Linked DNA regions of Homo sapiens. The protein of the gene in region 1 purifies or fractionates together with the protein of each later gene. This does not show direct contact. Each region holds a gene or a part of one and is shown on either strand. Other genes may lie near its edges. The genes, in order: PIP4K2A, AHCYL1, GPALPP1, CWC22, PNISR, NAF1 and LENG8.

Region 1 (4,021 bases):
GTGATGCTGACTTGAGCAGTTTCCTAGGTGTGCTGGAGGTGAAAGCTAGATTGGGGTAAGTTAAGGAGATCATCGCAGGTAAGTTGACGGTTGCCAGGTACGGTGTCTCTATAGAAATAGGAGACCTCAGCTTTAGACAAGGCTTTTCACTCCTGCTATGAAAAGGAACAGGGCAGGTGTGGTAGCTCACATGTATAATCCCAGCACTTAGGGAGTCTGAAGCAGGACTGCTTGAGACCAGGAGTTTGAGGCAGCAGTGAGCCATGATTGCACCATGCACTCCAGCCCAGGCCAAAAAGCAAGACCTCATCTGAAAAAAAAAAAAAAAAAAAAGGAACAGAAAACACGAGAAGACACTAAAATGAGAGACTAAGGGTGAAGGAGAGCTTCTGCTGTTACTGTAGTTTATTTTGCTTTCAAGATGGGCGGCCCCGGAATGGTGAGCCATGTCAGTGGAAGACACTGCAATGGTGGGAATCGTCTATATCTGCACTGTTCAATCCAGTAACCACTAACCACATGTGGCTAGTGAGCACTTGATATGAGAAACTGAATTTTAAGTTTTATTAGCTGAAATTTAAATTGCCATATATAGCTAGCAGCTACAAAACCAGGCAGGGCAGCCCCTCCAGCATGTCTGTAGACTGACGGACCCAGCTGTCCAAAATTTAGATGGGATGGTGGGAAGAGTGGAAGCTGACGGCTTCTATTTGTTCAATGCTTTCTAAATGAGGTTATATGCTGAGGGAAGGACGGGGTGGGGGAAGTGGGGGACAGGACACTAGGTGAAGTTCAAGGAGAAGTGAAAAGGAAGAAATGACTTCAGAGAGTGGAGAACATATTAAAGGAGGCAGTAACACTTCCGGGTCGAGTGTCATTTGAGATTTGTGGCAAATTTTAAAGTAACCCTGGTCAGAACTGCTGGCTTTTCTCTGGCAAACATCAACCACTTGGCCCTTCAAAGGTGGCCTCAAACTACTCTTTCAACCATCTCCTGACACTCCCTTTATGTTCCTCTGTGGTTTTCAATTTTCTTGGCTGCAGGATCTTTTTTACCCCCTTTACGTATTATATTCAGTACCCCAGTTAAAAAAAAAAAAAAAAAAAAAAAAAAAAAAAAAAAAGGACAGAGAGATGACAATGAGGACAAAAACAAGGCTGTTCTGGAGGAAACTGAGGTAGGCCTAAATTCCCCCACCAGCTTGGCCCCCTCCCACCAGCCCCTGAGGCACATCTAAGGAATCTCAGGGCTTGAAACCAAAGATTTACCCTGATGGGTGTTTCTCAGACTTAAATATGCTGACGATCAACATGTCTTGTTAAAATGTACATTCTGCTCCAGCAGGTCTGCAGAGGCCCAAGCTCTGCATTTCTAACATGTTACTGGGTTCTGCCACTGTGGCCACACCCAAAGCCAACTACTCACATTCTCCGCTCTGCTTGGTTTTGCCCGCTGTCGGACCCTCAGCTGCATATGCCTTTCCCCATTGTATTAGTCTGTTCTCACGCTGCTGTGAAGAAATACCCAAGACTGGGTAATTTATAAAGGAAAGAGGTTTAACTGACTCAGTTCTGCAGGGCTGGGGAGACCTCAAGAAACTTACGATCATGGCAGAAGGGGAAGCAAACACATCCTTCTTCACATGGCAGCAGCAAGCAGAAGAATGAACACCCAGCAAAAGGAGAAGCTCCTTATTTAAAATCATTAGGTCTCGTGAGAACTAACTATCACGAGAATACGATGGGGAAAACTGCCCCCATGATTCAATTATCTCCAGCTGATCCACCCACAACACCTGGGGATTATGGGTACAATTCAAGATTAGATTTGAGTGGGGACACAGCCAAACCATATCACCCATCTTCTGCAGCTGGGAGATTCTATCTAATCCTCAAGGTCCTCCTCATTGTTACCTCCTCTCAAGGATTCTCCAAGTCCCCCAGGCAGAAGTAATCATGATCCAGTCCTGGTTAGCACCTTGGCAGATCTCCTACCACTATATCCCCCTCTTGCTGTGCTCCAGCCATGCCAGCTTTCCTGCAGTTGCCATAACAAGCCAAGCAAACACCAGCCTCACGGCCTTTGCACCAGCTGACCCCTCCGCCTGAAATGCTCTTCTCCCAAACTGCCTCATGTCTAAGCCCTTCACCGACGTCATGCCTTTGCTCAATGTTCTGCACGGTCTATTTAATACCTTCCACCCCTAGCATTCTGGACACTGTAGTTATTTACACATATATTTATTTTACGTCTGTGTCCCCTGTAGTTATGCACAATTTGAGAGCAAGGTCCACAATATATTCATTTTGCATCTGAAGCATCTTGCAGTGTCTCCATATTTAAAGACAAGGTGAAATATCAAGTCAATAGCTGACATAACTTGCAACTAATGGATGTGAATTAGATTTCTGACACTTCAAAGAACCTAATCGCTAGTGGAAGTGTGAAAAATACAAGAAAGAACATAACAAAATAGATACAGAAAGCAAAGCAAGGGCACAAGGGTAATTCTAAAATGATAATTCATAACTCAAAAATACACAAGGATGCCAAGAACAACGATGATGTTCTACTACAAAACAGGATAAAGTAACCATTGATTTAGCATACAATCTGATAATTTGCTACCTCTTAGCATTTAAGATATTAAAAAAAAAAATAGGATAGGCATGGTGGCTCAAGGCTCTATTTCCAGCACTTTGGGAGGCTGAGGTGAGAGGATTGCTTGAGGTCAGAAGTTTGAGACCAGCCTGGCCAATACAGCAAGACCCTGTCTCTATTTTAAAGGATAGTAATAATGACAGCTAGCACATTAAGAACTTACCATGTGCCAGCAACTATTTAGGCATCTTACAAGTATGAATTGATTTAATCCATATAACAAACTTCCAAAGTAGGTACCATTATTACCTCCTTTTATAATCAAGGAACTGAGAGGCAAAATAACTTGTTCAAGGTCACATAGCCAACCGAACAAGGACTCCAGAGCTCTTAATCACTGTGCCCAGGTAGCTGAAAAACTATAAAGATTTAGAATTGTGAGGCTTAGCTTTAGGTAAGTTACTGTTTTAAAACTCCCTACAACATTTTTCTTAAATAAATTATGTACTGGTTCTCTCCCTACATGCTCTGAACATTAACAATGATTTTCTTTCTATGAAGGGAAAAACTGGTTTTCAAGTAGTTTTCTCCCATGTTAACAGCTAATACTCTGTCCATCCAAGAAGAACAGCTCTTAAGACTAAGAAAATAAAAGAACTCAAAGAAATGAATGATTCCTGAGCTTGGCCCAGGCAGCACAGCTCAGTGGTTAACGGTACCGTTGTGAATCCCAAGTACTAGGCACTGTGACCCAGGCGGGTAATCAATTCAGCCTATGCGTGTTCCCCCCCAAGAATTCTTCCTGGCTGCTGCGTGCTCTCCCCACTTTCTCACCCCACACTATCCCCATCTTATTCTTGCAAGGGTTCTTGATGGGGTTCCATGAACTCCCAAGTGGTCCATGGATAGAATTAAAAGGATCCTTGAACTTGCTAGGACATATCCTCTGTATTTTCATTTATTCCTTTAAAAGCCTCATTCTGAGGAGTCTATGGCCTTCACTGGACTGCCATAGGAGTTCCTAGTACAAAAAAGAAAAGAAATGAGGATAAAGGCAGACACAGGGAAATAAGCTAGGGGGGTTTAATATCAGTCTAGGAAAGAGGGAAACAAATCTGGTTAGGAGTGACAGAAGTGAGAATGGAAACGAAGAGACGGATTCAAGGAAACTCCCCAGGGATTCCTAACAAAATGGCATCTTTCACCTTCCTTCTACTTACCTTCCAAAAAAGAGGAATTGCCTCTACTTCCACTCATTCACTCCTTAAGTCTTTAAGCTTTCACAGCCACCCGCAATCAACCACAAGCACAGCCATGACTTTCAAGCACTTGGGAACATCTAATTGTGCCGACCTCTGTTTTCTCCTCCTGTTTCTTCTTCCTCTGTCCTTCCCTCAAAGCCAAGTGTCCCCAGTGTCC
Region 2 (4,021 bases), on another chromosome or scaffold:
TTTTCAATAGAAACCCATGCCTACTTCTGATAAACAAAGACTATCAATGATTCTGATATGGTTCCGTGTGTGTGTGAGTAAGCATGCGCAATGTGCCCCCAAGAAACACTCTTTCAGATATCTTTTCAGTATTCCAACAAGCCAAGAATATTTTGCCCAGTTTTACTTTTTGTAGTGTGTATAACATGTAGTTTTACAATAGGATTGTTTTTCATATTTCAAATATAAAATGATAATACAATATTGAATACAGTTTTTCAAGATACATTTATTCCCTACCCGCCCCTCAACACTAGTTGAGAATCACTCAATGGAGTAAATGGGAGAGAAAAATGTATGAACTAGAACCTGAAATAACTTCCTTCTAGGATCAACTTGATTTTTCAAAAGTAAAAACTCAAAATTTTATCTAATGAAGATATTCCCATTTAGTTATAAGTCTGAAACACAGTCCTAAAGCCTAACAGAGACCAGGAGAGTTTGCTGAGGCAAGGACACAAGGGGCAGCTACTCCAGAATCTGTTACCTGTGAACACCAGTCACGCTCTCTTCCACAATGCCTCGGATCTTCTTAAACACGTTTGGATACTTCTTATAAACCCAGTGGGTTAAGTCTCCCCCATCATCCAGGATCTATAGAACAGCCAGAAGACTTCTATGGGCATTCAGGCTGCTAGGGCTGGGGGGAACTTTGAACCCACTTTCTGTACTAGTAAGAGAGCCCTGTATGTTTTGGAAGAGTACTCCTCAGAGCTCCCTAGAGCAGGCTTAGAGAGTGGAAATACAGTCAAATTTGTTGGTGTAAAATGGTTAAAAGGATTCCTAGGTTTGCTTTAGGCTACAGTGATGAGTATTAAGCTAATCACAGACTCATTTTTAGTCTAGAGTCTTGAAATATATAGCCCCTTTGAATGCAAAAGGAGAACTGGGGCAGGAAGGAAAGAAAGCAGAATCCTACTCCAAAGAAGCACCACTATTTTGTTCTGGTGTGTTTGAGCCATGTGTTCAGCTAGTCTTACCCTTCCCCCACCTTTCCATTCAGTACTCAGACCCATTCTGAATAGGTATCAAGCTAAACACTTTAGCAACAAAGTCAGTGCATAAGACCAAACATCCAAAACATATTTAGGGAACCATGCTTTGAGGGAAAAAAAGGAAATAAATCTATTGTCAAAGTGTAGGATGTATATGCATTATTACCATGTTGGCCTGCCACCCATCCATGTTCACACAGCGGTCAATACACCACCAGAAGTCATCTTCTGACTCGCCCTTCCAAGCGAACACTGCAACTCCTGTAGAGACAGAAATGAATCAGCTGATTCCTCCTTTGAGGAGTGTCCTGTACCAAATCACTTTCTGAGATCCATGTGAAGAGAAAAAGGCAAAAGAAACAATTTCAGAAGGGAAAAAATTCAGAGCCAAAAGTCAAAGAATCACTTTTGGTTCAGAAATTAATTAGGTTAAGAAATTAAGGAATTTTTGCTTTAAAAGTAGTTTGGAACCTTAAAGTGTTCCTTTCTCTGGACTAATTTTATACTTAGAAGGAGATAAAATGAAGTGGGAATTAATAAAAGTTGTTAACTGGAGCATTATTGATATTAGTAAACATCTTGAAACAACCTAAATGTTCTCCATTAGGAAAATAGTGAGGTGAAATCACATAGCCATATGAATGACTATTACAAATGATGCTGTCAAAGTTTTCAGTGACATGGAAAACTACGTCTGAAAATATTGTATTTAGGTTATAAAACTGTATACATATTAGAATTTATGTAAAGTAGAAGAAAGGAAAAGGAAAAACATTAATCAAATACTCTATGTAGTGGGATTGTAGGGTTTTGGGGAACTTCCTAAATTTTTTGCAGTGAACACTTATCAGAAAAGAATAAACAAAAAAACCCAAAAGTATTATAAAGTTGCTTTCTGAGGATCTTAAAAAGATGAGAGGTCCGGCTGGGTGTGGTGTCTCACGCCTGTAATCCCAGCACTTTGGGAGGCCAAGGCAGGCAGATCACTTGAGGTCAGGAGTTCGAGACCAGCCTGGCCAACATGGTGAAACCCCATCTCTACTAAAAATACAAAAATTAGCTGGGTGTGGTGGCATGCCACTGCAATCCCAGCTACTCAGGAGGCTGAGGCATGAGAATCACTTGAACCCAGGAGGCAGGGGTTGCAGTGAGCCGAGACTGCGCCATTGCACTCCAGCCTGGGCAACAGAGTAAGACTCCATCTTAAGAAAAAAAAAAAAAGAAAGAAAGATGAGAGGTCCTCAAAGAAACTTCACGGTGATTTTCTTCTGAATATTTGAATAATAAAAATTATTATTATTGTTATTAATTTTTGAGATGGAGTTTCACTCTGTCGCCCAGGCTGCAGTGCAGTGGCATGATCTCGGCTCACTGCAGCCTCTGCCTCCCAGGTTCAAGTGGTTCTCCTACCTCAGCCTCCTGAGTAGCTGAGATTACAGGCGCACACCACCACTCCCGGCTAACTTTTGTATTTTTAGTAGAGGTGGGGTTTCACCATGTTGGCCAGACCGTTCTTGAACTCTTGGCCTCAAGTGATCTGCCCGCCTCGGCCTCCCAAAGTGCTGGGATTATAGGCGTGGGCCACCAGGCCTGGCCTGAATAATAAAAAATTATTTTACGTTTAATTAAACTCACAAATAGCTCATATATTTTCAATGCCATACTGAATACCAAATTATTTAATGCACTATCAATATGAAAGGTACTTCTTACTTGTGCTCTCTCACAAAATTGATGGCACTTATATAGTTTAACATTCTTCCTCGTTCAACTAACACTAGAACTGGGCATGACCCCATGCCATTAGATTATTTTCAAAGGCCATTTTTAATGACTACATAATATTCCACCATGGATATCCATCTTAATTTTATTATCCACTTTCTTCCTGTTGAGGTTTTTATCATGCACAATTTTATAGCCTCTAGACATATATGATATTGTAATGACAATTTTGATACAAAAAAGTTATATGTTTGGATAACTATTTTGGGGCAAAGTTGGTGGGAAAAAACCGAACTTACCAGCCTCAGCCAGTGCTGCAGCTACTTCATTCTGAGTTGAGTAGATGTTACAAGCAGACCAGCGGCACTGAGCCCCCAGGGCACAGAGTGTCTCAATCAACACCTGTGTAGAAGTGTAGGAAGACAGGGTGAGGAAGAGAAGGGCCACCCAGGAATGGAGAGCAAGCCTCATCAAGATAGCAATACCTATCAACTCTGCACCAACAGGTGCTACACTGGAAAGTTACAAAAGGGTGTACTCCAGCGAGGTGGTGCACTGGTATTTAACTTTGCATAAAACATAGGTTTCTAAAAGTCTTTATAACATTTTATAACAATCATATGTTTGCAAATCTAGACTTTCCTAGGTCAAGTTTGCTGAAAGTGGGTTTACATATTAAAAAAAAACCCAGAAAACCCCATTATTGTGTAACAGGGAGATCCTATTAATAGTTAGCATTTGGAGGTTGGCGAGTTAGGAAAGGAAAAGTGAAAAAAAAAAAATTGATTTCTTTCTTCCCCTTATCAGAAGTCCCTCTTTTCTTCCAACAAACTCACCGCTGTCTGGGCTGTGATGTGTGTACAGCCCACTATTTTAGCACCAGCCAAGGGCTTCTCCCCCTGAGCACGTTTCCTGAGTGAAATCAGAGCAGACATGTCTGTGAAAGAACAGAGGATTTGAGCTAGGTCTGCACTAGCAGTATCATCAGTTCCTGCCCCAGGGCTGGTCTGGATCTGTTGAGATATGGTGAGATGAGGCAGAAAAACTTTAAGCCTATTTCCATGACGACTGGCAGCTTCAACGGCACAGTAATAGTGGAGAGCAGTCATGCAACCACTTGGAGTTTCTCTCTTCCTCTACTGCTTCAGCTTTATACACAGAGGACTGAACAGAGAATGAAGTAAATCCTTAAAACTGATCAAAATGAAGGGTGAGTCTCATCATTCATTTGGGAAGAGAGGAAAATAGTTAAGGCATTGGCT
Region 3 (4,021 bases), on another chromosome or scaffold:
ACTTGAACCCGGGAGGCGGAGGTTGCTGTGAGCCAAGATCACGCCACTGCACTCCAGTCTGGTGACAGAGTGAGACTCTGTCTCAAGAAAAAAGAGAAGAATATTAAAAGTGTCAGTCAGTATACGCCACAATACAGACCCCCTAATAAAAGTAAGGACATGTCTGGCTTCACTTTTTTATAGATATCCTTCTGAACTATGAATAATCTCAAAAAATTATTTTGGGAACATGTAATGAACTATTCCATATCTCTCCTAAAGCAGTGATGCTTGTCGTCATTAAGGAGGCTCTCCTATTGCAATGATAATTTTCCAAATAGATTATAAATTCCATGAGAACAGGAGTTACGCGTTCCTTATATTTCACTTATTTCCCTTTCATATCACACAGAATTGTGATATGCATATAAAAAAATGAACTCAGTATAATACATAAAAATCTCATTACAGATCAGCATTAACAGATGAACATCCACAACTGATTCTGATGACTAGGAATGCTAACTTGAACTCCGATGAAATGAAATGTTACTCCCCCAAAACCAATTCTGTTCTTCTCATTAGTAGACCTGTATTACAAAAAAATTATATGGTATTATGTTTTAGATTGCAACAATAAAATTTTGTGAAGTTTGCTTCCTTCTTGTTGTACACATACTTTTACAATAATCTTGATTTTGCCTACTGACCTACAGTCAAAAGTACAGTTGTCCCTCGGTATTCTCGGGAGATTGGTTCCAGGACCAACTCCCCTGTTTGCAGCTACCAAAATCTGTGGCTATGGCCTTGGTTCCACTTCCCTTGAATATTGTACTTTCAATCTAGAGTTGGTTGAACCTGAAGACTCAGAACCTGCAGATCTACAGGGTCAACTGTATTTACTATCTGGTCCTTTACAAGAAAAGTTTGCTGACCCCATGACATGGTTAAATCATGCAAATATAAAGAAGGGGCACCCAACCCATCTTTTACAGGCAGTAGGTAGTTAACATCAAAGAATGTTTCCTAGAAGCAGTGATGTAGGGGTGGGACCTGAGTTAGCTGGGCAAAGAAGGTGGGGACTGGACGAAGAGTAGTCCAGGCAGAAAGAAAAGCATCTGCAAAAGCCTGAAAGCAAAAGAGTCATCACATTTAGAAAACTGAAAGGTGTTCAGGATGGTTGGAACCAAGAGAGGATAGAGAGGGGCCAAATGTTGCTGTGAGGTCAAGGAAGACTAGGACTGAAAAGGAAGCCTTGAATTGGTGAGGGTCTCAGTGGACTGGTGAGGGCAGAAATGCAATGGGTTAAGGAGAAAATAGAAGACCCAGAGACAGTGAGAAAGAAAAAGATGCAGCTAGAGGGGGATATGAAGTAGAGTTTTCTTCAAAGATGGGAAAGATTTGAATGTTTTGGTTAAATGCTAAGGGCAGGCAGCCCTAAGGACAGGGAAGGGAGTCAGAGTAAAAATGGAAGGATTAGCTTTAGAAGGAAGCAGTATACCTCTTCTATTGTTACCAAAGGGCAGACAAAAAGCTTGGCGTGGATTTAGGATAGTTTTTAGATACAGTAACAGAAAATTGAGGAAGTTCTCTTATGATGGCATCTACTTGTTCAATGAAGTAGACGGAAAAATAAAAGTTTTAGAAAGAAAGGGAAAGTTTTAAAAAGCCAAGGTTGCAGATTGGGGAAGAGAAAGGAGGTGAAGCCTGTGAGGATTACTGGACAGACCTATGGACCCAGTTAGGGAACAGGCCATCTTTTAGCAGCATTAGCTTGTGGAGGCGTGAGGTTTCTTCTAGCAGCATTAGGAAGCCTGGCTGTAGGCTCACAAGGGGTAAACACTTGGACTGATCCAGGGCTGGGCTTTTGTTAGATGGGTTTGGCAGAATACCCAATGGGATAAAGCAGTTGAGAGCACCAGCAAGAGAGTGGATGAATGGGTGGACCATGGAGTCTAACAGGAGTAGGGATGTAAGCACTCCTCTCAGATGGAAGTACTTAGGGATAGAAGTACTTAGGGATGGAAGGCTCAATGAGGTTAAAAAACAAAAATAAAAAGCAAATGAAATGGGAGTAACTTGAGTGAGAACAATGAATGAATAAGGGGTTCTTGCTGAGAATGAGATTTGAATTTGAGTTTTTGGAGCTGGAGTAGGGTAGACTCACTACTCCAGCTTAAAATGTAGGTGAAATTAGTGGAGGTGAAGGTCACTGCAGATAGGAGACTGGAGTTAGAGTCAAAATGGCCAAGGCTCCACTCAGCTTCCATAGAACAGCATATGGAGTCTGTGGATCGCTCTTGAGAAAATATTTGCACCCCAGGGTTTCTAATGACATGACGTTGGGGGACATTTTCCAGCAGTCAATTTTCAGAGTATTCAAATGAAGTTAACTTGTTCCATCTCAGACCTGTGTGCTCCCTCACTCCTCTTTACTCTGGTCATGCTTGTCAGATCTCCTTCTGGGACAGCAGAGTGTGAGGAACACAGGACAGATAACAGACTGGATTCAGGAATCTTCACTTGAAGGTAATCCTGACACCTGCTACCACATGGATGAAACTTAAGGACATTATGCTAAGTGAAATAAGCCAGTCCAAAAAAAAAAAAAAGACAAATACTGTATGATTCCACTCAAATGATGTACTTAAAGTAGTCAAATCATAGAGACAGAAAGTAGAATGGTGCTTGTCAGGAGCTGGAGGGGGGAATGAGGAGTTATTACTTAGTGAGTACAGAGTTTCTGTTTTACAAGATGAAAAGAGATGTGGATATGTTGGTAATAGTTGCTCAATCATCTGAATGTATTTAATGCCACTGAACTGTACATTTAAAGATGGTTAAGATGGTACATTTCATGTTATGTGTATTTTATCACAATTTTTAAAAACTGGAAAAAAAAAAAAAAAAAAAAAAAAAGAGGCTGGGCACAGTGGCTCACGCCTGTAATCCCAGTACTTTGGGAGGCTGAGGCAGATGGATCACTTGAGCCCAGGAGTTCCAGACCAGTCTGGCCAACATGGTGAAACCCCATCTCTACTAAAAATACAAAAATTAGCCAGATGTGAGGGTGCATCCCCGTAATTTCAGCTAGTCAGGAGGCTGAGGCAGGAGAATCACTTGAACCAGGAGGCAGAGGTTGCAGTAAGCTGAGATCATGCCACTGCACTCCAGCCAGGATGACAGTGAGATGCTGTTTAAAAAAAAAAAAAAATCCCGTTCCCAGCCAGCCATTAGGTTTCTTCCAGACTCCATACAAAGGATTATGGTTAGCTGTATTCATGCAGGTCCTGGCTTCTCCAACCCCCATAAATCCTGGGCCCCTCTTAAGGAATTTTTTTTTTTTTTTGCGACAAGGTCTTGTTTTAACACTCAGGCTGGAGTGCGGTGGTGTGATCACAGCTCACTGCAACCTCAAACTCCTGGGCTCAAGCAATCCTCTTGCCTCAGCCCCCCAAGTAGTTGAGACTGCATGTGCATGCTACCATGCCTGGCTAATTTTTAAATTTTTAGTAGAGATGAGGTCTTACTATGTTGCCTAGGCTGTTCTTGAAGTCCTGGGCTCAAGTGATCCTCCCACCTTAGCCTCCCAAAGTGCTGGGATTATAGGCATGAGCCACTGCGCCTGACCAGGAATTTTTACTGTCCTCTACTCCGCCAAAAGGAATCTACTGAGTACCCACTTTGTGCTGGGTACCCTGCTAGTATTGGGGATTACAGAGGCTTAGGACGTGGTTCCTTTCCTCATGGTTTAGTGGGGCAAACCAGCAAACAATCCAGCACAATAACTACAGATAGAGAAAGCCACGTGTGCTCCCATCCCTCACCACAAACACTGTGGTCTTGGCACCAGCAGGACCAGCAGCAGCAGCAGCAGCTGGGAGCTTGTCAGAAATGCAGAATCTCAGGCCTCACCCAGATCACCTGAATCAGAGTTGGCATCTTAACAAGATCTCTGGGTAATCCATGTGCATGTTCAAGTTTAAGGTGCACTGCTACAGAAGACAGAAATAGGGTGACCAATTGTGCTGGTTTGCTTGGG
Region 4 (4,021 bases), on another chromosome or scaffold:
TTTCGTAAGGTGATACAATATGGACTCTAAGTAGCACATGAAAAGTTAAGGATATATATATACTGTTCCTTAGAGTAATGACTAAAAAAAAAAAGTACAAAATGTAGCTTAAAAGGCTACAAATTAAAATAGAATTTTAAAAAATATTTAAAACAGAGGCTACCCCCTCCCTCACCTGAGGATGAGAGCCCTGTAGGGATAACCCTTATCTCAGCTGGATTTTAGGACCATTTGCCTCAACAAGATGACTCTGTTGAAACCAAATTGCATGACTCCTTCCAAAGCTCCTGTTTTAATGGCTATAAAGGTATAGAGAGCCATAAAACTCAAAACTTTACTCGACTTACTTTTGCTCAAAGATATTGGTATTTTTTTCCCTACCTCTACTAGCACAACCATTTAACATTTCTAACATATCCTTTATTACCTTTAAACCCAGTGTTATTTATACGTACATTTGTTCCCCAACAAATAATACAGCACTTCTGTTATTTGCCCAGCATCTTTCTAGGCACTGGATAGGCAGCAATGAACTACCGTAACAAAATCTGTTCATGTGAAGCTTACATTCTAGGTATAAGAAACAAATCTATAATGATAAACAAAACACTAAGCCACTCAAGCAAGGTGACAGGTTGGACTTTTTTCCTACAGGTCAGTTTTAAATCACTACTTAACAGTGTAAAACTAGTTTGATGTCACTATATTAAACACAACTTGAATCAAGAAAAAATGCATGACAGGAGAATTACTTGTACATATATTGGGGCCCACCTCTGACTTACAAAATCAGAAAATGGGCAGAAAGTGTAGGGGAAACCCATGCATACTTGTTTTATGAAAGTATTCCCAAGGTAACTCCAAAATCCAACTTTTCCCCAAGTCTCCTCAGCTTTTCAATTTTACATAAGAAACTTTGGTTCTCAATTTGTTCTCAAACCATGAGCCACTTAGGCAGAATATAGAGACCCCACAGCCTACCTACTTTATAGTGAAGAACTTAGTTGTAAATCAATTGGAAAGGGAAACAGAAAATCCAAATGTATTAATTCTTAATAATTCATAGGTAAGAAGTGTTTTTTAAACTTGAGAAATTATGGCCACAATTTATAATCACTTATACAATCTTCCTCAATCCTCATAATTACCCTGTTCTGGTGATTTTTTTTTTAGCCATGTTTTTCAGTGAAACAACTGAAGTACAGAGAATTCAAGCAATTTGTCCACGTAAATTACACCTAGTAAATGGCAGAAGCTAAACTTCAAAGCCAGGTTTATCTGATGCCAAAGCCATATATTTTGTCCCAATGAAAATGCCAACACTAACGAATTGAAGCCAAAATGGTAAATTATAAAATGTAAACAAGTACAGACTCTACTATACAGAAAATTATCCTAGCCTAAACTGATCCATTCGTTCAAAGTTCCAGATAGCAAAGACTGTGATTTAATATAATGAAGCACTACTTCTTTTCAAACATTCATAGTAATTTTAAGGATTCCTTTTTATTTAATTTAGCATACCTAGAATTCACTGTGACTAGGTATACTATGAGCAAAAAATAAAAATAAAAAATCACTTGACCCCATTGCACAAGATTTAGCGTTTTCCTTTGCTACTCTCCTGGAGTCTTACACCCGGTTCCTCTTCCCAACCTACTTACACATTTCAGAACAAGCAATTTCTGTGCATTTTATTTCTATTTAAATTTACATATTTCAATTTACATATTTCAATTTAGTGAGTTTTCTTCTGATCGATATCATCTTTCCCCTTTCAACTTTCATCAGCAAATAATTTCTGGCAATAAAGTACAATCTGTTACATTTCCATGTCTCACAACGTAAGTGTGAAAATGACAATATGGTAAAGTAGACTGCTATCATAGTTCTAACAAAAAATGAATAAAGTATTGTCATTGTCCAGATTTATGCAGAATATGCCTGTTCGGAAATTCTGAGTTCAACATATGCATGCTAATACTTACACTAATCGGAAATTCCTGAAATGAGAGCAATTTATCTAGAGTTTATAGCACTCTCTGCTCTTCTAAGCATCACTATGTGAATTTTATGGTGAATTATTAAATTTCTTTCCCCTTCTCACAAGAAAGCAACTCAACAAAACCACACCTGTTCTCCCGAAGAAAGGATATTTTCCAATAGGAGATATAGTATTCACGAGAGCACTATTAAAAAAAAGATAGTTTTTCTCTCAGTTTCATCAAGCATTAGAAAGCAAAATATTTAATAACATATATAAGTACGTCAGACTGTTAAGCAGAAAACTGTGAATTCTGCAATCATCTCAAAAATTAAGAAAATGAGAAAATATTCAACTAATGGCTGAAATGCACTGCTTTCCAGATGATTTCCGTAGCAAAACACTTCTACCATTGTCACTTCGGTGTTCTCAGTCCAAGTTAGAGGAACTTGCTGAAACATATTGTCATAAAATTGCTAAAGGAAAGGGGAATCAATAGTGAGTTACCTTTAGTTGGCTCCTCTGGCTTCTAAATAGTAAAAACAGGTTTGGTGAATTTCAAACATTTTAACAGAGTTCATATTTAAAACAAAAACAAAAACCAAAACAAAAACCTTAGTTGCCCAATGGGGAAAGTGGTAATATTATACAATACAAAATAAAAACTGTCTTAAAATTATTCTAAATGCCAAAATATAATGGGAGGGGACATAACGGAACGGAATTCTCAGAAAATACCTCAACAACAGCCAAGCCCCCAAGGAACGGATTTTCCTTTTCAGGGAACAAATAGGAGTAACAGATTGGCTTCGCTCTTGAACAATATAAAACAAGATTGCTATGTACTTTCCATATCTGTACTGAAGGAAAACTTACTTGTTTTAGAAAAACCGTTTCTTGCTATTTTTTCCTGTCTTAATTTACATATTAGTGAAAAAATTGCCTCATGATATACCTCATAAGGCCAAAAAATTATAATTTGATGTCAGCATAGAATCACAATTTCAAGAAAATAAAAGGGTCAAAATACTCCTGTCTCTTTCTAGAAAAGTCACCAGGTACAGGTTGAAAATCCTTTATCTGCAGTTCTAAAATCTGTAAAGCTCTGAAAATACAAAGATTATTCTTAAGCATGTGGCAACTCACTTGAGAGCAAAACTTAGCATATACTGACTTGATACTTAATGTGACTTGATACAGTGCAGAAATATTAATGTGTTTTGACTAGAGGATGTTACTCCAGACCCCAAAAGGGGGGATTACTTAATATGTAGTATAGGCACTGCAGTTTTCTAAAATCTACAAGATACTGAAATCAAAACACTTCTGGCTCCAAAAATTACAAATAAAGAGTTGCAGAGCTGTCCTCCCTTTTGCTTCATAGTCATTGCATATGCCAGGTGTGCTGACTCATAACCATTTGAATGACTAGATTGCCAGGTTCAAGTACAGGGCTAGAAGTTGTGCAGACAGTTCTGGACATTGTTTTCTGTAAGAAGTAAGTAATATAAAAGCATTTGACTGGTCTGCAACTCTGTGTGGAGAGTAGACAGCCCAAATTTTCAGACACTTTAAGACAGTAAGACACAGAGGAGTGAAAAAAAAAAAAGACATTTTAATGAACCCAGTGACACCATTATCTATACTGAAAACCTCACATTATAAATTGGGAGGTAGTATTACCCCCATTCATTTCCTGTATCATGAAGCTAGTCTATTTTAGGCTGTTTAAGTAACCAAATAAAGAGTTAAGTGATCCAATCATTTGGAAATACTATTAATTTTTTTACGCATAGGAAGATTCCCCAATGTGCTTCTTTTCAACAGAATGCAGGATCTATGAGAATAGAAATTTGTCTATTTTTGTTAGTTTCAACATTTCAATAAGCTGTCTCTTGATTTACAGTACAGTATTGATTTCTATTTAAGTTGGTTTTAAAGAAAAATTCTACATGTTGAACTTTTTAATGATTCATTTAAAAATAAATTATGATATTTATGGGGCAAATTCCCTTTATCCTGTCCCCTCTCTAGTTT
Region 5 (4,021 bases), on another chromosome or scaffold:
CACGTTCCATTTTTTCAAGACCTTCGCGAATCCAAGCGGGAAGAGTCCTGCGTTTTACTGCGTCTGTTTCACGTGGGAAAAATATACGCAAGTCAGTTAAGTAAAATATTTCTACAAACTTGTGAGTAAATTTAAAAAATATCCCATTAAATATCATGCCTTTCTTCAATGCCATCACTTTTAGTAACAGCAGGGACCACTGCTCTAGTGCTTACAATCTGCCAGGACACAATGAAAGCATGTTAAACCATCATCTAATTTAATCCTTACAAAAGCCCTCAGAGATCACTACTATTACTCCACTTTTTTCCACAGGTGAGGAAACTGAGACTCGAAAAAATTAAGTGATTTGCTAGTAAGTTAAAAAAGGAGTAAAGTTAGAATCTTCCTAAAATGTAAAAAGTAAAGATTTATTAACAAATGCTCCTGTCCATTAAATACTGAACAATTTAGAACTTTCCAGATATAAAGTGGCATAAATATGTATTTGTCACTTGAAATAGGCTGGCTCTATAATGTTATTTAAAAAATTGAAATTTTCTGCCAAAATACTTAAGGGAAGTGAAATAACCAGAGGAAAATTAATCTGACAGCAGTGCATCAGATGAACTAAGAGTGGACAGAGATTGAACAATTAGATTTAAAAGGAGAAGGGCTCATATATCTGTATAATGTACTGAAATGCCTACACTGAAGAAAATACCAACATGCTATGGCTAGCATAAATTTTCACTTCATCACAAAATCTGGAATTTAATGTAAAGGTTTAAATAAAATTATTTAAACCTTTTAATTTCAGACCAGTATCATTTTTGTAATTTTAAGCTTTATGACCATAAAAAATAAAGTGTCAATTCCTAACACATCAGAGATACTCAAACAATTTTAAGAAAACAAGACATCCTTTTTATATGATAAAAAAGTCATGCCAATTGTGGTCCACTAAACTAAGTTAAATAGCTACCAATTTGTGGAGGCTCCTGCTTCACAGGAAGTGCAATAGGTGAACGCTGACGATCCCTGAATGATGATGGCCTTTCTCTTCGATTCTGGGGAGGTGCTGGAGGTCCTGGAGGTCCTGGTTGCCAATAAGGAGGATGAAATCCACCTTGCGGTGGACCAAAAGCAGCCCCATGCTGAAAGAGTATTGCAGTTTATTTTTTCTTCAAATTAATACAATATACTCTCTGGGACACACGTGTGTTATGAACTGGGACAGTAGAAATCCATGTGTGCAGCACATCCAAGAATTCCATGGCTCTAATATCCACCGATACTTCTATGGTCCCAAGAACCTAGGCTTACTTGTCTTAAGATTTTCCGGCTATGTAAATGCAAAGAGGCTTCTAAAAGCCAGCTGATAAGCTACTTTCAAGAAGTATATGAAATTTTTCATTCTGAATCCATTTACAAGCTAATCCTACCAACACTAAGACATCAAATAGATACTAATTTCTCTTTAACTAGACATTTTTGTCAATTTCAACATCCTACTTACAGTGAACAAAAAGTGAACTAAACAACTTAAGCTGTTTCTATAATCTTGCAGATATATTCATTTATAAGCAAAGATAGAAGTTAATGAATCATTAAATATTTTCTGCAATTTTGCTATTTTCAGAGGCTTTTCTAGGCCAGCTGCCAATACAGCTCTTTGTCTTGTTTACATGGGATCTACCATGCAAAAGTAGGGTAAGCAGATGCTCCCTGCCATTATATTTCTTCAAACAACATAAAAACTGTTGTATCTGTATACCAAGTATACAAGTATCTGAATATTTATTAATGAGAGGATTACCATCTCAAGGTGAATACTAGATGTCCATTATCAAATCTACCCTAGAATTCATGAAATAATTCTTTCAAAATTTTAAATTATGATAGCAGTTTATAAGTTAATAATTGCAATCAGTTATTTCAAAATGACACCTAGCACTATAATTTAAGGGTAGACCCTGGCAGAGGGAATGAAGTAAATAAAGCCCAACATACAACACTATTCCCCACAGAGTTCTATGTCCCTAGGAATGAATTGGATGCTACAGAGGAAATTATATACAATTCCATTAACATGTCATGTCAGAATGGAAAAAAAATGACACTAGAAAAACAGTCATAATTCTACATAGCACAAGGAATTACACTTAGGAAAATGATCTATATTTTTTATTCATGTCTTAACCATGAGCTATATTCAATTACTGTGCATTCTCTAGTCTTTAACATTTAAATATACCATTTTGAAATATAAATTAGAAAATAAAACATCATATAGCTATTGCACTTATACATTTTTAATTTTTTCAAAAGTTTTCCGTAATGATCTTTTATACCATTTTCCTAATGAAATAAAAAAATCAGAAAACAAATTCTAATTATTTTAATACTCAAAAATTGATAACTGAGACAGAATGTGCTTATTTATACAAGTCTGAAAAGTGAAACACGTATCTTAGGTATTCTTGATGAGACACTTCCAAAGAATGGATTACGTGCACATCTACAATATTAAAGCAACAAAATATCTTTCACCTGATAGTCAAACTGGTTCACTGGCCCCACTGCAAAATTATCGGGTGGTCCACCAAAGTTGTGATTGTTCTGGTTAAATATATGCCTGTTGTCAGGGGCAAATTCCCCACTGTCCTGACTGTTGCTGTCTTCAGAAGGAGGAACAATGTCCATTGGGCCTGGTGTTGGTGGCATCCATGGCTGATCTGGAGGGGGGTGTGGGGGTTGCTGATGCATTCCCCATTCTATTTAAGATTTAGGCATAAAAACATTCAACAGGCGGTTATAACAAAATCAACACAGAATTTTAAGATCTCAAGAAAGATTTTTCAGTAAACATACAGATTTAAAAAACAACTTATGACTTCTTGGTCAAATTCCTTTTGTTTATCTTAAAAATAAGCAATGAACTAAACTGTCATATATAATTCAAAATGAGCTAACTCCACTCTAATTCATATCCTAACCAAATGCCCAAAGTTATTTTTAACAAATGTAACAAAATCCAAAGCACTATTTTTGTTGAATTTTTATATTTGTTTAGTAACAACACCACAAAAATAATACCTTGAGGTTTTATATAATTTCTTTCTTACACGAACACATTTATCCTCACAACATCCCTGTGAGGTAGGGAGAAATTAGGTATTATTTTTGCCAATTTCGGGAGGGAAAATCGAGGCACACAGAGGTAAATCACTTGCCCAGGGTCACAAAGTAGAGTAAAACTAAGGGGTAGGGATGCCCGCGGGAGTCATTTAAGAACTTAAACTTAGGAACTAAAACATTTTCAAATGTGGGGAAATTTCACTTTCAAGAAAGCTAGAAATGAACCACCTCACAGTATCAAAGACTAGAATATTTATGTTTTTAAAAGTAATCTGAATTCTCGTTTTTTTTGTTTGTTTGTTTTAAATGAGGGACTCATTCTGTCACCCAGGCTGGAGTGCAGTGGCGTGATCACAGCTCATTGCAGTCTCAATCCCCTAGGCTCAAGCAATCCTCCCACCTCAGCCTCCCAAGTAGCTGGGACTACAGGCATGCGCCTCTATGCCTGACTAAGTTTTAAGGTTTTTTTTTTTTTTTTTTTTGTAGAGACAGGGCCTTGCTATGTTGCCCAGGCTGGTCTCGACTGAGGTCTCCATTCTTATAAGGAGAAACAAAAAGTATTAATAGGGAAAGGAGGTTATGACTTCACCATCAGCATACCCAAATGAGAGGCTGATTCCTCCATAGTTTCAAGTGACTATTAAAAAGGAATAACACAAGCCATGGAAGACTGAATTAGCATCAAGAAATCTACATCATACTGTGAAATAAAACAAACAAAAAAGTAAAACACACAAAAACTTATGAAAGATCTTCACTATCTGAAAAAAAAAAAGGGAAGAAAAAGGTAGGCGGATGGTAGGGGCAGAGTATATTTGACAGACTAATTTGTCACACAGTGACACAATTTTTCTTTAATTAGAGGCTAGACATGTTTTACTCTGCCAGTGCTGCTTCTGAA
Region 6 (4,021 bases), on another chromosome or scaffold:
GACTTTGAGTAAAAAATGGTGAGTATTATCACCTAGAGCCAAGTGAAAGGATACCTAGAAAACCACTTCTCAATGACAGGGCAAGTATAAAGCATCAGTTGGATTAAATTTTTATATGAACACCTACAGAATATATACTAGTTTTAAAGATATAAAGAAAGCTGCTTGCCCACCTCATAGTAAAGGTCTCAGGTGCTACTTTTCCAAATTCAGTTTCTTATACTCTCCTTACAATCTATTACTTCCTTTGCTTTTATCTTGAATCAGGTAGTATGGAAGTTCCAGAATCCCCTAAGTTGGGTGGAATGACCAAGAAGGGATATGGGTGCCTCCTATGGAGCTGTATGAGGAGAAGTGGGCCGGCCTGAGCCTTGCTGTGTCTTAAGTTGCTCTTTACAGTTTAGCTCTCAGGTGTTAGTCAATCTAAACTCTACACTCAGAGGCTAATGGTTATTTAAAATATTGTTAAATTCCTCTTTTCTACTCTGGATTAGCCAAATTGCTTATGTGAACTTGGTCAAGTTTTCCTGTAACATACCTATTAGTATTGGCTCATGCCACATACTGTCTATTGTATGGCTTCCTGTTATCTACTGCCTGTGATGTTGTTTTACTTAAAACTTTATAATGATTTCATTATAGTTGTGGCTCATAAACACTTCAGAACCTAGGAACAGTCAACTAAAATACTATGCTTTGCTTTTGTCCAAGAATTTTGAATGTCACTTATATTTTAGTTCAAACCATACTGCACAGACCTGAAGTTGGCAAGGAATTTTTCCACTGAAATTGTTTTTCACACTTAGGAAATGGATTCATGCTATCTAGGAAACAAATCCCTGGGAAACAGTCTGTGTACCAGGTTGCAAACGATGATTATTTTACCTTGTATTAATGGATACACAGGAAACTTAAAAGATATTTTTAAATCTCTGACCAAATGAAGAATTGGGTTTGTGTATATGTGAGAGAATTAAACTTGTGAATTGTTTTTAAGACAATTTTAAGTGAAAGTAAGACTACAATAATATATGTCATGTAGGCCAGTAAGAGTGGTGCTGAGTGCACCTCTTCTGTCCTTCACAGTTCTTACTGGACGAGGTCTACTGGATTTATCTAAACCTTTTCAAAGCAGATGTCTTGCTATTTTCTTAAAGTTTTTTGCTTTTACACTTTTTTAAAGCTTTAAATTTGTGATGCTATTAGTGTTATTTCATAATACATTGGCATTTTAATAGTTTTTAATGTCACTACTTCTTTTTAGAGTACACATATCTTCAGAATGGTGGTGCCCTGATAGGTGAGCTGTTTTACGCCTTAATGAAAATTAATGAAAGATTCAGTGCTGTACTGAAATCATAAAATGTGAAGAGCATTTACTATCAAAAATCAAGAACTGAGGATGTGATAAAACAGCCATGTTCAATGCAGTTGGTATAAATTGGTCCAAGCTATTTAGAAAGCTATTTAGTAATTTCCATTAAAACTTTTATGCCTTAGTGTTAATTATCGTACTTTCAGCTTCAATACCTCCACTCCTTACAAATCAATTTTTAGGAAGTCTGAAGTATAGTGATTTATATATGTTTATCATGGCATCATGTATTATGTTGAACAAATTGGAAGCTGCCTAAATGTCCTACAATAAGAAAGAAGTTAAGTAAGTTGTCCTGAGTCTGTAAAGGGGTGTTTTATGATAGCTAAAATTATACTTACAAAGAATATAACATGGAACAACTTTAGGTTTTTAAAAGGGGGCAGTATACAAAACTACAGTATGGTCTTAAAGAAAAAAATAACGTATTATAGAAAAAAGACTGGAAAAATCTATACTGGCATTGATCATGGTCTTATCTCTATAATATACATATATTATCTCGCTTTTGTCCCCCAGGCTGTAGTGCGATGGCACAATCTCGGTTCACTGCAACCTCTGCCTCCTGGGTTGAAGTGATTCTCTTGCCTCAGCCCCTGAGTGGCTGGGATTACAGGTGCCTGCCACCACACCCGGCTAATTTTTGTATTTTTAGTAGAGACAGAGTTTCACTATGTTGGCCAGGCTGGTCTTGAACCCCTGACCTCAGGTGATCCGCCCGCCTCACCTCCTAAAGTGCTGGGATTACAGGCGTGAGCCACTGCGCCCAGCCAGAAAATATATTTTTTAATTCACGTATTTTGAGAAGAAAGTACAATTTGAAACCAAGAAGTTTCCTTTCATTATTCTTAAAACGTTTTCAGAAGTAAAATATGTGGTTCTGCTAAAAGCAGTTCTTTTAGTTAAATGTTAAAGGCTGCACCATCTTTGTGTTTTTTAAACATAAATAACTTCTACTTTATTAGTTGTTAAATTAGAAAAAGTCTGTAATTTTACAAAATTCCTAACACTGTGGAAACAGCAAAAGTGATTTAACTCCTATTGAAGTCAGAAGCTTGCTTTTATATTTCCCATCTGATGATTCCAAATGTATACAGTTTTCTCAAAAGTTACCAATTATAATCCTTTTCTGTGTACTTTACAAGTTAAATGAGCAATAATTTAAAAAAATCATAATTTGCATCGAGTTGGTACCATCAAAATGATTTGAATTTGGTGAGGAACAAACTTGTTACTATTGTTTCACATTCATAGAAGGGAAATCTGGAATGAGCGAGTGCATTTTAATCAATATATGAAGACTGAATATGTAAAAATGACATAAATATAACTAAAAAATTATTTTATTGCCCTAACACTGACAAAATTACCTTGTTCTGGCAATTATCAGTGGGATTTTTAAAAGAAAACACTGCTGACTTTTCAAATAGTTATTTTACATGTTAAAAGAGGCCTTTATGTTTCTATTACAGATATTCGAGATATTTGGACCTGTTGCACATCCATTTTATGTGTTACGGTTTAATTCTTCAGATCACATTGAGAGTAAAGGTATTAAAATAAAGGAGACTATGTATTTTGCTCCATCAATGAAAGATTTCACTCAATATATATTCACAGAAAAACTAAAACAGTAAGTACTTTACCGGCATGTTGTTCTTCACTTACCTAACGTTTATATTTTAAGAATAATTCTCAGTGATGTAATTTCTTACAGTTATATTGTGTGTGTCTTGCAAAGAGTTCATTTATCTTCCTAATAATATCTTTGAAGCCTACAATTTATTTTCAGATTTTGTACGTAGAATTCATATCTTTTGTAAAAAATGAGATGATCAGCCATTAAGAGCACATTTGAGCCATGTACACTTTCTGATTCTAGTTCAGTGTTTTTTCCATTATGTACATTCTTTAATGTACTTACTATTTTAGTATTAGTACTAATATTATTATCATTTCTTAATAACTTTTTTTTCAGTTAAGTAAAATTCTCTTTGGATTCTATTTAGGGGCCTTGCTCTTCAATAAAACTTTAAAATAGTTTTCAAGAGAAAAAAAATGAGTGTTATCTCTTTATTTTGCTTATAAATTTTAAGTTTGTAGAAGAGACAACTAACACGTGTCCCTGAAAAATTGTGTAGAAAGTTACGGTGTATGGAGTTGACCTAACCAACAAACCAGTGCTCTCCATTTTGTCTATCAATAATGCTAAGTGATTTCTGTGGCATGTGACCGCAATATTTTTTTATATTTGTGCTCCCATTGGTTGAATATTTTTCAAATGTTAGCTGTTGCCAGCTGTTAGTTGTAGAGCTGTTTGTATCAGCTAAACTTGTTATAATTATGTTATTTAATTTTTTATATCAGCAAATAGCATATGAATTTAAGATTTTTTTTTAATAAAAATAACTTGAATGCTTTCGAATGATGTAATGAATATGAGCCACTAAAAATATTTTCAAATTGGGAGTGGAAGAAAAGACTGCCAAAGACTGGGGGAAGGTTAAATCCAGAAAGACTTTGCACTCAGTTTGACACAGAAGTTCCTTTTAGTTCTAGCTCTTCTTTTATTGGAGACTTAAAACCTAGGCGATACATTTTTATAGATGTTGTTTTTGCAGGAAAACAAAGGAACTTTGGTCACTG
Region 7 (4,021 bases), on another chromosome or scaffold:
GGCTCTCAAGGCCTCCATGCTGTGACTATGACCTCACGTGGACAGCCACCTGGCCAGGCTCTCAAGGCCTCTTCAGTCTACCGGTCAACCTCTTCGACCAGAATTTCTCCACCTTGGCAAGACTGAGCTCTGAGGCCCAATGGCAGTGGCAGGGCAGCATCCCTGGCCTCCACTCACTAGATGCCAAGAGCATCCCCTTGCTGTGACAAGCGAAAACCTCTCTTGACATTGCCCAGCGTCGCCTGGGCACCTCAATCACCAGACAGAACCATGCGTCTAAACATGAGTCAAGCAACTCATCCCCACCCACAGCAAGCCAGGCGCAATGTCTAGTGAACGAAGGACACTGCAGGGGCATGGCCTGACCAGGGGCCTCTGGCACCGCGCCCAGTGTGGCCTCAACACAGGTGTCTCCCTAAGCGTTTCTGGTGCTCTCAAAGGAGCTGAGTGGGACTGGGCCTTGTCCTGGTAGACCAGAGGCTGTCTAGATGGTCTCTATGGTGGGAGCACAGCGACAAGCTGAGAAAGCAGAGACCTCAGGGTTCTGAGGAAGCCCAGGGCAAGGAGTGAACTAGGGGGTCCAGGCAGGAGAGAACAGGAGGAAGAGACACACAGATGGGGTGGAGAAGAGGCCCCAGAGGCAGTGAGCTGGGAACAGTGGGGAGAGGGAGAGGAGTGACCCGGAACACAGAGGTGACCAACAAGGAGAGCAAGAGGAACTGGAGAGGGGAGGGCTGAATGGAGAAAGATGATGGGGAAGCAAGGACCAGGACAAGGGTTGGGGGCTGGGGGAGGCCTGCGGCCAGGAGCTGGTCTGAGGGGCGGTGCGAGGCGGAAGGATGGGAAGAGCAAAGGCAGAAGGGAGCTTGGCACCACATACGTTTTGATCATGGCCTTGAGGGCGACCTTGCGCTCCCGATCTGCAAACTTGTCCACGAGGTAGCCAGACATGCAGGGTGCATGGCAGTAGAGCCGGAAAAAGCGGTGGTAGTTGCCCAGGGCCCAGGCTGTCCTTAATGCCAAGGCGTGGGCCACGCAAGGATCTGCCTTCAGTTCTCGTGTGAGGTATGCCAGCTCCGTGGTGATGTCTAGCACCAAGACAAAGAGGGTGAAGTCAGCAGGGCTCAACCCTGGGTACCATGGCCTCTGTCCTGGGGACTGGGCCTCACCTCCCGAGTTCTTGGTGAAGATGTAGTAGAGGATTCGGTAGGCAGTAAACTCGCCCACATTGCCAGGCAAGTTCTCGGCGTACAGCGACTTGAGCTGCGTCTGGCACTGGTTAAACTCTTCATGGTCACCCTGGAAGGCAGAGGCACCGAGGGAGGAGAGCAGAGTGAGGGTGCTGAGGGCAGAACGGCAGCAGGAAAGGGGCTGGGGAGGCCCGCAGAGGCCAGCTCACCTTCTCCAAGGCGATCCGGGCATGGGTCTCGTACACCTCCACCGTGAACTCGGTGCGGATGCCCTGCACCTGGGGCAGCGGGGCGAGAACAAGAGTCACAAGGAGCGGGAGGCAGGACTGGCTGAGGCCAGGCCCCTCCCAGCGCGAGTCTCACCGTCAGATCCTGCCGGATCGACTTCATCTGCTCGCAGGCAAACGCGTAGTCCTGCTTCTCTTTCCAGTGGCACTTGACCATGCACAGCGACTTTTTCAAAACCTGAAAAAGGGAACTGAATTCACACTCGGAGTACAACTCAGGTAGCGTGGCCAACGGCTTCCACTTATTTGGTGGGAGAGTTGCAACATTAAAAAAAGAAAAAAAAGGCCAGGCGCAGTGGCTCACGCCTGTAATCCCAGCACTTTGGGAGGCCGAGGTGTGTGGATCATCTGAGGTCAGGAGTTTGAGACCAACCTGGCCAACATGGTGAAACCCCGTCTCTACTAAAAATACAAAAATCAGCCAGGCGTAGTGGCAGACGCCTGTAATCCCAGCCACTAGGGAGGCTGAGGCAGGAGAATCGCTTGAAGCCGGGGAGCGGAGGCTGCGGTGAGCCAAGATCACGCCATTGCACTCCAGCTTGGGCGACAGAGCCAGACTCTCTCCCAAAAAAAGAGAAAACAAACCCACAAGACATGGGTTAAGAGTGGCCACCTCCACACCCATTTCCCTATAAGCACATGGCTGTTCACAGGTTCTGCAGCAGAACAGTGACTACGCCAAACACTGGAAACACAGCCCCCCACGCCCCACAGCCCACGGGCCTGGGAGAAGGCTTTATGCTCCGTGTCACCTAAGCCAGGAACCACGGCCCAGAGGTCAAGCGATTCGCCGGCCAAGCTGCACACCCGCCACGCGGGGCTCCAGGGCAGCAGAGCGCCTTTGCGCTCCTCTCAGAATGCCGACCAGCCGAGGCGTCTCTGGCCGAGCTTCCCCTGCCATACCAGAGCCCCCGTGTGGCCTCTGCCACCCTCCCTGGGTTGGCTCCCCAAGTCCTGAGCCAGCACGGCCTCACAGAGCAGAACTGCCCTGCTGGGCACTTACTGCCACAGGGCGCACGGTGGACGGGTCGGGGGCACAGGTGAGGCGCAGGTAGTGCTTGGTGATGTCAGGGCAGGTGCCCACGATCTGCAGCTCCTGCCAGTCAGGGTCAGCCCCACTGCTCTCCAGGCTGCTCATCTGCAGCACCAGGGGCTCGAGGCGCAGGCGGCGGGAGTGTCCGTGCTGGAAGCGGGCTGCCCGCTTCTGCTTCTTCAGCTCTCGCTCCGGGTCCTCACACTCCAGCGCCGCCATCTTCTTTCGACTGCGCTTGGTGGGCGCCAGATCGTGCCTAGGAAGGGATGAGGGGCAGTGAGCGCGACAGGCGTCTCCAGCCCCCCTTCAGCCTCGCCCCTTTGGCAGCTGGCTGTCCACCTGTCCGGCCCTCCTCCTCCTTCTCCCATGGGTCCCCAGTACCCTCCTCCACCCTGGCCCGTGTGTCGAGCCCTCACACAGTCTCACCTCTTCCCACGCTGCGCCCTGCCTCGGCCCCGATCCATATGGGCCCCTCGACCGCCCCGGCCCTTAGGGGGCGGGTTCCTGCGGCCCACAGGGTGACACTCATTCCCTGAGTAGGAGCTGTCGGAGTCTGAGTGGGAGTCACTGCAGGAAGAAGCAGGAGGGTCAGGCCTGAAACGCCTCCCCCTCCCTCACACACAGCCCCAGCCGGGAGCCTCAGTACCTTCTGCGGAAGTGGCGCGTCGGGGACCTGGAGGAGGAGCGGGAGCGGGAGTCTGTGCTGGAAGAAGAGCTGTTGTCCTTCATGAAGACGTTGCGGTTGCCAAACTTGGTGAAGCTGTTGCCCCGGGCTCGACCGGCACCCCCAGCCCCGGGCGTCCCTCGCTGGGACGGGGCACCCCCGCCCCTTGTCGCCGAGCCTGCCCCTCTAGGAGGGTGAAGGCTGCTAGCGGCCTCCCACCGCTTCTTCTTAGGGCTCTCAGCCACAGGCTCCCGGGTCAGCCTGAGAATACAGCAGGGCAGGGCGTCACCAACCCCGCCAGACACTGGCAGGACAGCCGCCACCACCTCCCTCAAGGTACCGACCCGCCTCCGAAAGGAAAGGCACTTACCCCAGGCGGCTCAGCTACTACAGTGCAGAAATGAGACGCGAACCCAGGTTTTCCGTCTCCAGAGGGTGCGCTTAACCACTGAGCAATGCACGCCTCTCCAGCACCCATGGTCCCCACCCCACCCCACCGGCCTCCCTCCAACCAGGACTTCATCCCCCCAGGATCCAACTTTCCAGTTCATTTCTCTTTGGAGCTCCTGGTACCTGGGACCCGCAACTCTCCTACCTCCATACCCAGCCCATGCCTCTCACAGCACCACCCTCCCACCTATGTCCCCCACCCAGACTAACCCCGGCAAGGGCTCCCGGCTCCAGTCAATGGTATAGGCCGAGCCGTCCTGCAGCCGCGCCTGCAGCACCTCCTTGAGCAGCTTTTCCGTGCGGTCCTTGTCCTCCTCCGACTCACAGGCGGTGAAGCAGCGCTCCACATACTCTTTCATGTCCTGGGGCCAGTCATCCGGCTTCCCAGACAGGTTCC

Evidence for each region.
Region 2: the proteins of PIP4K2A (region 1) and AHCYL1 purify together in Homo sapiens (co-immunoprecipitation; 4 studies listed by BioGRID and IntAct, with this or other methods). This does not show direct contact.
Region 3: the proteins of PIP4K2A (region 1) and GPALPP1 purify together in Homo sapiens (co-immunoprecipitation; 3 studies listed by BioGRID and IntAct, with this or other methods). This does not show direct contact.
Region 4: the proteins of PIP4K2A (region 1) and CWC22 purify together in Homo sapiens (co-immunoprecipitation; 3 studies listed by BioGRID and IntAct, with this or other methods). This does not show direct contact.
Region 5: the proteins of PIP4K2A (region 1) and PNISR purify together in Homo sapiens (co-immunoprecipitation; 3 studies listed by BioGRID and IntAct, with this or other methods). This does not show direct contact.
Region 6: the proteins of PIP4K2A (region 1) and NAF1 purify together in Homo sapiens (co-immunoprecipitation; 3 studies listed by BioGRID and IntAct, with this or other methods). This does not show direct contact.
Region 7: the proteins of PIP4K2A (region 1) and LENG8 purify together in Homo sapiens (co-immunoprecipitation; 3 studies listed by BioGRID and IntAct, with this or other methods). This does not show direct contact.

Annotation. Positions count from the first base shown.
Region 1 is NC_000010.11:22,704,339-22,708,359, forward strand, and holds part of PIP4K2A (phosphatidylinositol 5-phosphate 4-kinase type-2 alpha), read right to left. Parts: intron 1,088-4,021; exon of another isoform or gene 1-1,087. UniProt on the Homo sapiens protein: Catalyzes the phosphorylation of phosphatidylinositol 5-phosphate (PtdIns5P) on the fourth hydroxyl of the myo-inositol ring, to form phosphatidylinositol 4,5-bisphosphate (PtdIns(4,5)P2). Has both ATP- and GTP-dependent kinase activities.
Region 2 is NC_000001.11:110,012,037-110,016,057, reverse strand, and holds part of AHCYL1 (S-adenosylhomocysteine hydrolase-like protein 1), read right to left. Parts: intron 3,697-4,021; coding exon 3,596-3,696; intron 3,162-3,595; coding exon 3,059-3,161; intron 1,296-3,058; coding exon 1,201-1,295; intron 634-1,200; coding exon 527-633; intron 1-526. UniProt on the Homo sapiens protein: Multifaceted cellular regulator which coordinates several essential cellular functions including regulation of epithelial HCO3(-) and fluid secretion, mRNA processing and DNA replication.
Region 3 is NC_000013.11:44,995,662-44,999,682, reverse strand, and holds part of GPALPP1 (GPALPP motifs-containing protein 1), read right to left. Parts: intron 1-4,021.
Region 4 is NC_000002.12:179,997,240-180,001,260, forward strand, and holds part of CWC22 (pre-mRNA-splicing factor CWC22 homolog), read right to left. Parts: intron 2,668-4,021; exon of another isoform or gene 2,492-2,667; intron 1-2,491. UniProt on the Homo sapiens protein: Required for pre-mRNA splicing as component of the spliceosome. As a component of the minor spliceosome, involved in the splicing of U12-type introns in pre-mRNAs. Promotes exon-junction complex (EJC) assembly.
Region 5 is NC_000006.12:99,408,209-99,412,229, forward strand, and holds part of PNISR (arginine/serine-rich protein PNISR), read right to left. Parts: exon of another isoform or gene 2,757-4,021; coding exon 2,533-2,756; coding exon of another isoform or gene 2,509-2,532; exon of another isoform or gene 1,138-2,508; intron 1,137-1,137; coding exon 965-1,136; intron 64-964; coding exon 1-63.
Region 6 is NC_000004.12:163,139,210-163,143,230, reverse strand, and holds part of NAF1 (H/ACA ribonucleoprotein complex non-core subunit NAF1), read left to right. Parts: intron 1-2,847; coding exon 2,848-3,008; intron 3,009-4,021. UniProt on the Homo sapiens protein: RNA-binding protein required for the maturation of box H/ACA snoRNPs complex and ribosome biogenesis.
Region 7 is NC_000019.10:54,455,381-54,459,401, reverse strand, and holds part of LENG8 (leukocyte receptor cluster member 8), read right to left. Parts: coding exon 3,835-4,021; intron 3,436-3,834; coding exon 3,157-3,435; intron 3,078-3,156; coding exon 2,937-3,077; intron 2,767-2,936; coding exon 2,481-2,766; intron 1,656-2,480; coding exon 1,554-1,655; intron 1,469-1,553; coding exon 1,400-1,468; intron 1,300-1,399; coding exon 1,170-1,299; intron 1,089-1,169; coding exon 881-1,088; coding exon of another isoform or gene 496-880; exon of another isoform or gene 1-495.